Linked DNA regions of Homo sapiens: regions 1 and 3 are each linked to region 2. Evidence: fine-mapped expression QTL. A gene starts in region 2. Each other region holds a variant in brackets. All regions are shown on one strand. Distances are between the middles of the regions. Region 1 has its middle 5.0 kb from the start of LINC01970. Region 2 holds the start of SLC16A3 (solute carrier family 16 member 3). Region 3 overlaps CCDC57 (coiled-coil domain containing 57).

The links. PIP is the estimated chance that this variant, and not a neighbour inherited with it, causes the effect.
Region 1: its variant is the best candidate, but not a certain one, in a credible set for the expression of SLC16A3 in whole blood (INTERVAL, PIP 0.87).
Region 3: its variant is the best candidate, but not a certain one, in a credible set for the expression of SLC16A3 in whole blood (INTERVAL, PIP 0.80).

What each region holds. Positions count from the first base shown.
Region 1 is chr17:82,296,433-82,299,184 of GRCh38, forward strand. No RefSeq gene overlaps it. Among named protein-coding and RNA genes, the nearest start is that of LINC01970, 5.0 kb to the left of the region's middle. RefSeq lists an enhancer at 1,505-2,136. The variant G/A (reference allele first, on the strand shown) is at 1,550.
Region 2 is chr17:82,227,391-82,230,142 of GRCh38, forward strand. It overlaps SLC16A3 (solute carrier family 16 member 3), which reads left to right and starts at 1,652. Exons shown (of 5, transcript NM_004207.4): 1 at 1,652-1,716. RefSeq lists silencers at 708-937, 1,028-1,107, 1,158-1,297, 1,458-1,777, 1,898-2,057 and 1 more.
Region 3 is chr17:82,174,874-82,177,625 of GRCh38, forward strand. All of the region lies in intron 10 of CCDC57 (coiled-coil domain containing 57), which reads right to left. Among named protein-coding and RNA genes, the nearest start is that of CCDC57, 37 kb to the right of the region's middle. RefSeq lists an enhancer at 261-1,050. The variant T/C (reference allele first, on the strand shown) is at 1,110.

The DNA.
Region 1 (2,752 bases), 69 kb after region 2:
CTTAGGCGAGTTCCGTACCTTGATTGCAGTGACTAATGCTGCCCTAATGGCATTTCATTGGAAATGAACTATTACAGGAGGGTTTTTGAAGTGGCTTATGATCCAGAAAAGGAATCTTCCAATACCTCTGTGCCCCAAAACCTTGGGTAAAATACCAACAGTGCAGTTGGTCTAAAAGGCACCACTTAAATTGCGTTGCAGATGACGTTGCTAAGGATGGCTTTCTGGTCTCCTGGTTCTGGGCAGCTCCCTGCACTGCTGGTTTCAGTCATGTTGCAAGGAGAGTATTAGCAACTCAGTAGTGATGAGGTTTAGTGGACATTTTATTTAACGTTCTGTCAAATAGGCCAAATGAAATGTTACATATGAAAAGAGCCTATATTCTGATTTCTGCCTGGGGATGTAAACATTAGCTTGCATGATGCCTGGAAGCCCCGGAACCTGAGCTCCCAACCACCTGCCAGCTGCTGGCTGCCCCTCCCTCCCTCCTCTCCACCCCCCTCAGCCTCCTCTTCCTCCTCCCATCCTTCCTTCCCTTCCCGCCTTCCCCCAGCGCCCCATGAAGCTAGTTTTAGAATGGCTTTTTGGAGCAGTTATGTTATAAGGATTGGCAGCTCATGAGTTTAATATTCTTATGGGTCTTCCAAAGTGCAAAGAGAACACAAAGTTACTTTTGCTTTTGTAATAGAGTAAAACGCATCCTATCCTGACCTAAGATGCACAAATCAACCCATCTTGTCAGGCAGATAAACTTCTCATAAACCTGTAAAACATATGACTTATGTATCCCAGTGGTCTTATCTTTCCTATCATGAGATGTCTGCTAGTCCATCATCCTGGAATTATCCATGGAATTATCACCCATCCATGGCTCCCAGCTATGCCACAGTGACTGCAATCCTAAGATTGGGCATCCGGAAGGATGGCCCAACACCGTGCCACCCTGCAGCTTTGCCGCAAGCTGCCCTGGGTCCTGCATCCTCTTCGAGGTGGAATGAGAACACAGCCGAGAGCTCAGGATCTTCCAACTGCTGCCCACAGTGGCAAAAAGAAACCTGGTGGGAGAAGATGAGTCAGACGGAGCCAGGAGCCCGCGGCCGGTGACGCCAGCGGTGGGGGAACACAATGTCCTGTGGGTGATCGGTGAGCGAGCGGACGGTGGATTTCTCCTGCAGTCGGTGGCAGGAAGGATGTCATCACGCGCTATTTTGTGACCAGCCCCTGGACCACAACTCACGTGAGCAGAAGGGCTTTCTTCTTTGCTTAAGATGTCTGTGCTTGCAAACTTACTGGCCACAGGTACAAGGAGGTTTTCTTTGCTTATGTTCATATTAAACATGTTAATAAAGGTTTTTCTTATTGTCCTTGTTTTTACATTTATAAATTACTCATAAGCTGACGAAACAGAAAACAGAGACTCATCTCCGGTTCCCGGTACAGTGAGGTGAGAGCTGCTGTGCTGGGTGCGGGAAGCGCCTGGCCCCAGGTTCCTCCTGGACGGAGGCCAGAAGGGCTGAGCAAGAGCCAGCGAGGCTGGGGAGGAGGAGGA[G/A]GCGCTGGAACAGGAACGGCCGGCCGGGAGGGGCGAGGCTGGGGGACAGTCACGCAGGGCTGAGGCGGGCGTGTGGTGCGGGAGCGTGTGTGTGCAGGAAGCTTGTGTGCGTGCGTGTGGGGAGCGGGTCTGGTGAGGGCGCACTTGGGCCTGAGCCCCTTCCGGCCCCTCGTGTTTGCTGGAGGCTGCGTGTGCTGTGTCCCCACCCCAGATGCTTGCCCTGAGGGGCAGGTTTCCATCCAACACCCCGATTGTCTCCTTCAGTAAACCCCCGGCACCGTCTACCCGGAAGTTGTGGGCTGGGAGGGATGACATGCCCTGGGGACTGTGAGCAGTGGAACCCACGTCATTGCAAGGAAATGATCACACAAACACCAGCTCGGCAGAGTGGAACCTTTGCCAAACCTCAGAGCTGCAGCGAGCGGCTGGGCAACCTTCCTGAGGACGGCGCCCCCTCGCCCAGCTCCAAGCTCCTCCCTGTCCCCACAGGATATCCCTGGACCTGGCGGGTCACTCTAGCCAGAGCAGCCTTCCACAGTCCTCCAGGGTCAGAGCTACAGTTGAGGACCCTGTAGGTGGTAGAGGTGCCCGGGGCCGGGCTCTGGGGCTGGCAGAGGCAATGTCAGCGCCTGCCACCTGCGATGTGGCCAGGGAACTTGGGGCTGAGCAAGGGCACAGAGGGGAGAGTGTGGCATGAGGGAGAGGCGGGACCCCGCAGAGGCTCCCACACCTTCCAAGGCAGCAGAGGAGAAGGGGAGGCTGCCAACAGCCAGACCAGGGCTCCAGGGGGGCGGCAGGGGGCCCAGGGAGCTCCGGGAAATGGGACAGCCACTGTCCACCTGCAGAACGCTGGCTTAAGCCTTGCAGACGGGCCCAGTGGGCAGGGTCGTGATTTTCACTCCCGAAGGGCCTGGGGTGACAAGCCGGAGGTCTGGGAGATGGGACTGGAGACCGTGTTCAGAAGGAGGAGCTCTCCACTCTGTTGGCAAAAGCCCTGGAGCTCCAGGCATCCACAGTGACCGAATGTTGGTAAAGTCCCAGAGGACGGGACCCAGGGCATGCCCCTCACTGGACGGTGGCCTCGGGCCCTGCAGGGAGTTGAATGTGGGGTCATGAAGATGTCAGAATTGCGTCTGAAGATGTCAGAATTGCATCTGAGGAGGCAGGTGGGCACACGTGATGCAGGGACACGCCATGCACCAG
Region 2 (2,752 bases):
CCCAAGCCCAGCTGGCAGGCCTGGTGACTCAACAATCTGGGATGGGGAGCACGGTACCCTCGCCTCCCCGGCAGGCAATACCCCATAGGGGACCCATTCCCGCAGCTGTCCACGGTGCCTCGCACCCCTCTGCTGCTCTCCCTCCTCAGAAACTGATGAATCGCCTGGTGCAGGAAGATGGGAGCACCACCTGCCCTGGGCGGGAGCACCACCTGCCCTGGGCGGGAGCACCACCTGCCCTGGGCGGGAGCACCACCTGCCCTGGGCGGGAGCACCACCTGCCCTGGGCGGGAGCAGCACGGGCCAACTAAGTAGAGTCTTCATCTGTGAAGTTGGAGGCCCCCTCACCACTTGCCACAGGCCTGTGTTCTGCTCACAGGCACGTGCCCTCATCTTGATGTTTGGGGATGGGGGTGGTTGGGCCCCAGGTAGGGGTGAGGGCCAGACCCAGCCTCTGTGAATGCCAGCGGGAGGGTGGGCTTGTAACATTACATAGAAAGAACAGGCGGCCTTACTGGACCTGATGTCCCGCAAGGCTGGGCTGCAGATGGAGAGCCAAGGCCCACACGGCCTCACTGTCAGGGGTGGCCTCCCCTTGCCCTCTGGAGGGGTCCTCCATTGATACCCCCTGCCTCCTTTGTGTGTGAAGGCACGGGCTTACCAGTGCCTCGGTCCCCGAAGCCCCCGGGTCCGGGAGGGGCCAGTTAAAGCATTCCTGTGGCCCTGGCAGGGTGGCCCTGACAACTAGACTCCTTGGTCCAGGCCAACAAAGGCCTTACTCCCTGGAGCCACCTCAAACCTCAGCACCCAAAGCGGCCCGTTATTTCCATGTTGCAAATGAGAGAAAACAGGCTGGGAGAAGCACCTCACGAGGTCCAGCGGGTGGGCAGCCCTCGCCTCCCCGAAGGTGGGAGCCGCCCCGGCCTCCGCGTCGGGTTCTGGGCCGCGAGAGGGGCGGGGCAGGGGCGCAGGGCTGGAGTCGGTGGCTTTGTAGGGCCCCGCAGGGCGCGGAGCCACCTGGGGAAACGGAAGTTCAGGGAGGGCGAGGCCGTGCCCCACATCCAGGCAGCGCAGGCCGCGGGCCGCTCCCCTAGCCAGGAAGAGCCGCCGTCCGCACCGGGACCGGAGAGGAAGCGGAGGTCTGAAGGGGGACAGGTCGGACGTGGCCTCAGAGAGGGAGGATGTGGGCCCCGGAGCTGAGCCAGGCGGCCGGAACCCCACGGGACCCGCGCGCACCTCCCCACCAAAGGGGCCCCGGCGTTGGGGGGCGAGGGGTCGCTGCCCTGGAGGACGTTGGGACCTGCCGCGCTGCGCTCCGAGGCGGGGAAACGGAGGGACGGCGGGGCGGAGGGGCGAAGCGAGCCTGGACTCCGGGGGAGGCGAGGCCGGGAAGACCCAGTCCCGAGGAGCAGAGGGGGCGGGCCAGCTCCGGGCCGGGGGCGCCGACGGGGCCGGTTCCGGTTGGGGGGGTCCCTGGGCCCGGCGGGGTTGCGGGACGCGCCGTCGGGGAGCTGCGGCCCGGGAGCCCGTCCGGAGGCGGCGCGGGGTCCGGGCGGGGCGCGCAGGGGCGGCGCCAGGCGGTGACGTGCGCGGGGGACGTGCCGCGCCAGCGACCCGAGCACTTAAAGTCGCCCCCGGCGCGGAGCGGACCGGCAGAGGCGGGCAGAGGCGGCGAGAGGCGGCGAGAGGCGGGCTGAGGCGGCCCAGCGGCGGCAGGTAGGCGCGGCCGCGATGCTCGCGCGCGGGCCGGGGCCCAGGAGCTCCCCCGTGCCGGGCAAGGGGGCGACCTCGGGGTCCGCGCTCTCACCCCCACCCCGCCCACTTTGTCCATCAGGTCCGGGGGCGCCCGGGGCATGGACTAGCCTTCTCGACCCCGAGCGGGCCCCACCGAGGGCTCCCGAGAGCCAGCCGCGCCCCTCCGCGCCCTCGCATACCTGGCTGCCCAGTCTCGTCTCCCCCGGTCCGGCCCGGCGCCCACCCGTCGGGCTGCCCTCAGGGGCTGGGCTCGGGCCAGGAGATGGCTGCGCCGGCGGCCAAGCCCGGTCCGGGTATAAATAGCTCGGTCCGCGGTGGCGGGGGGCGCGGGCTATATTTGGTGGGGCTGCTGCAGCCCTCCCTGTATGGGTGGCCTCCCCGAGGGAGTGGGGAGCACTTGCGCTCGGGCCGTGGCGCTTTCCCCTGTTCGCAACACCCTGAACACTCCCCGACCCACACCCGCCCTTGGGCAATGACTAACAGCCCGAGACCGTGCAGGGAAGTGGGGGACCCTCTCCAGAGCCAGGCTGGGCTCCCTGGGTTCGCCCTACCTCCACCCCTGGCCCCCAGCTCGTGGGAAAACCAGGCGCAGCCTTTGGTAGCCTCCCACTTCCTAACCCACGCCTCAGTTTCCCTATACGAAAAGTGGGTTGGTCAGGAGCCTCCCTGGGTGTTGGGCCAGTCAAGAGACAGGAGCCGCAGAGTGGAAGGGAAGCCCTTAGCTCTGGCCGGGGCCTCCAGGGGTGGCTGGAGTCGGTGAGGGACGATGGGGGGAGCCGAGGGGCGGCTGTCCTCCTCTCTGTCCCAGAGGCATGGGCTGAAAGGGTCCCTCTCCTGGTGATGGCCAGAGTCAGGCCTGCTGGGCGGGAAATGGCAGTTGGCCCACCCCAAGGCCCAGGGGCTTGTCCATGCTGAGCACAAGGGTGGGAGGTCTTGTGTCTGTTGGGGCCGGGGAGTCCAAGGTCCCAGCTTCACTGCACAGGCCTGGAAGTCAGGT
Region 3 (2,752 bases), 53 kb before region 2:
AATCAAGCCCCTTCCTCAGGGCCGAGAGAATTTTGAGCGTTAGCCGTCTCTTTGGCTGCCGGCTTAAATAAAGGACTCAATTCGTTTCAGAGTGTGGCGTCTTCTCTAACTCGCCTGGGTACAACAACAGGAAACTGCCCACCGCAGTGCCGTGATCACAATGGCGAACAACATGAAGGACCATTGGTAAGAAAATCGCTAGGTGCGTTATGGTGTGGCCGCTTGATAAAACATGCAGCCATTTAGATTCTGTTCGTGAAGAATTGTAATGGCGTGGGAAAATATTTATGGTAGAACCAAAAGGAAGAAAGAATTCTCCTGGAGAAACAGTCGCATGAGGGGTAGACCCTGGAAGGCCGTGCTCCACCTGGCCAGTTACAGAGCGGGATACCGAGTGCCCAGAGGCTTACCAGGCTATGTCCCAGGACGCGCTGAGGGTGCTGGCTGCCTGGCCTCACTGGCTGAGCAGGCCCACCACAGCGGCAAGCAAGGCTCAGAGGGCTCGGCAGTGTGAAAGGAAAATATCACTAAGCTAAAGGGAGAAGTCAAGCTGGGAACTGCTCAGGGCAAACCTGCCTCCCATTCTATTCAAAGTCACCCTTTGCTCACTGAGATGAATGCGTATCTCACTGCCTCCTTTGGAGAGGCTCATCAGAAATTCAAAAGAATGCAACCATCTGTCTCTTACCTACCTATGACCCGGAAGCCTCCTCCCCACTTGGAGTTGTCCCGCCTCTGCAGATGGAACCACTGTTCATCTTACATATGTTGATTGATGTCTCCTGTCTCCCTACAATGTGTAAAACCGAGGTGTGCTCTGACCACCTCGGAACACGTCGTCAGGACCTCCTGAGGCTGTGTCACCGGTGCGCATCCTCAACCTTGGCAAAATAAACCTTCTAAATTAACTGAGACCTGTCTGAGATTTTCTGGGTTCACATTTTGGTAACCACAGGGAGATTCTGAGTGGAGATGCCTCTGACCTTTGACAAAACTCCTATCGGTACTTGGTACTGGAATGAGCTAACTTTATGGCTCAAACCAACAGGACAATTTGCCGAGGTCTGGGAGCATCCCCTCCAGAGAATCCCTGATCTCCCCAAATTTGG[T/C]CAAGATCTAAAGTTTATTTTGCTGTACAATGTTGGCAGAAGAGCTGAGGCGGGGCTTGCTTGTCTGACATAATGTAAAAGAGTCTTGGAACATGTCCTGGGTCCAGAGTCTAAAACCCCTCATGACCTTTGGAACACCAAGCTCTGTGCCAATGGGTGGAAGGCTGCCCTGCCGCACTACAGTCTAAGCCCAGGGCATAAAACCCCTCGTGGCTTGGAGAGAACCCAGGGCCCAGGGCATAAAACCCCTGGTGGCTTGGAGAGAACCCAGGGCTCAGGGCATAAAACCCCTCGTGGCTTGGAAAGAACCCAGGGCTCAGGGCATAAAACCCCTTCTAGCCTCTGGAATTGTGTCCAGACTTGCTGGCCCCTTGCTCCTTGCTCTCCCAAGATCATAAATTGATTTTATCTTGAATTAGAAGAACCTGTTCTCCCTTACCTCAAGTAGCGGAGCATATGCGAAACCGTCACAGCTACGCTTGATGCACCGCTACCTTTCTACCCCTACGTCCTCACGCCCTCACCTGTCTACCCCCACAGCCACACGTCCTCACTACCTGCTTCTTTACTTGATTACCAATAAACAGTGTGGGCTCCCAGAGCTGGGGGCCTTTGCAGCCTCCATACACCAGCGTGGGCCCCCTGGACCCACCCTATGTACTCTTGTCTCATTCCTTTGACTCTGCTGGACTTCGTAGCCCCCATGACCTGGTGTTGGGTCTGATCACCCCAACGGTACAACTCCCTTTTTTTGGAGTTTTACTTGCTTCCAACAAGGAAGGCAAGTTTCTCCTGCTTCATGATGATGGAAGGCAGGTAACTCCTTTATGGAGTTTGCACTCACTTCCAACAGGGAAGATGAGGGTTTTTTTTTTTTTTCCTGCTTCTAGGATGGTAGAGAGCAGTCTTTAGCCTGAGACCTATCCCTAGGTAAGTAACTGAATTGGCATTTGCCTTGGCTAAAGTTAAGATTAGCAACCAGGCCGGGCATGGTGGCTCACGCCTGTAATCCCAGCACTTTGGGAGGCCGAGGTGGGCAGATCACCTGAGGTCGGGAGTTCAAGACCAGCCTGACCAACATGGAGAAACCCCATCTCTACTAAAAATACAAAATTAGCCGGGCGTGGTGGCTCATGCCTGTAATCTGAGCGCTTTGGGAGGCTTAGGCAGGCGAATCACCTGGGTCAGGAGTTCGAGATCAGCCTAACATGCAGAAACCCTGTCTCTACTAAAAATACAAAAAATTAGCCAGGCATGGTGGCACATGCCTGTAATCCCAGCTACTCAGGAGGCTGAGGCAGGAGAATCACTTGAACCTGGGAGGCGGAGGGTGCGGTGAGCAGAGATCACACCACTGCACTCCAGCCTGGGTGACACGAGCAAAACTCTGTCTAAAAAAAACAACTCCAAAAATTAGCCAGGCGTGGTGATGCGCACCTGTGGTCCCAGCTACTGGAGCAGCTGAGACGGGAGGATTGCTTCAGCCTAGGGGTAGGAGGAGATTGCAGTGAGCTGAGATTGCACCATTGCACTTCAGCCTGGGCAACAAAGCGAGACCGAGACCGTGTCTCAAAATAAATAAGTAAAAACTACATGAATGAAGGACGAGCTAGGAACATTCTTCATACCACTTAGGATCTGAG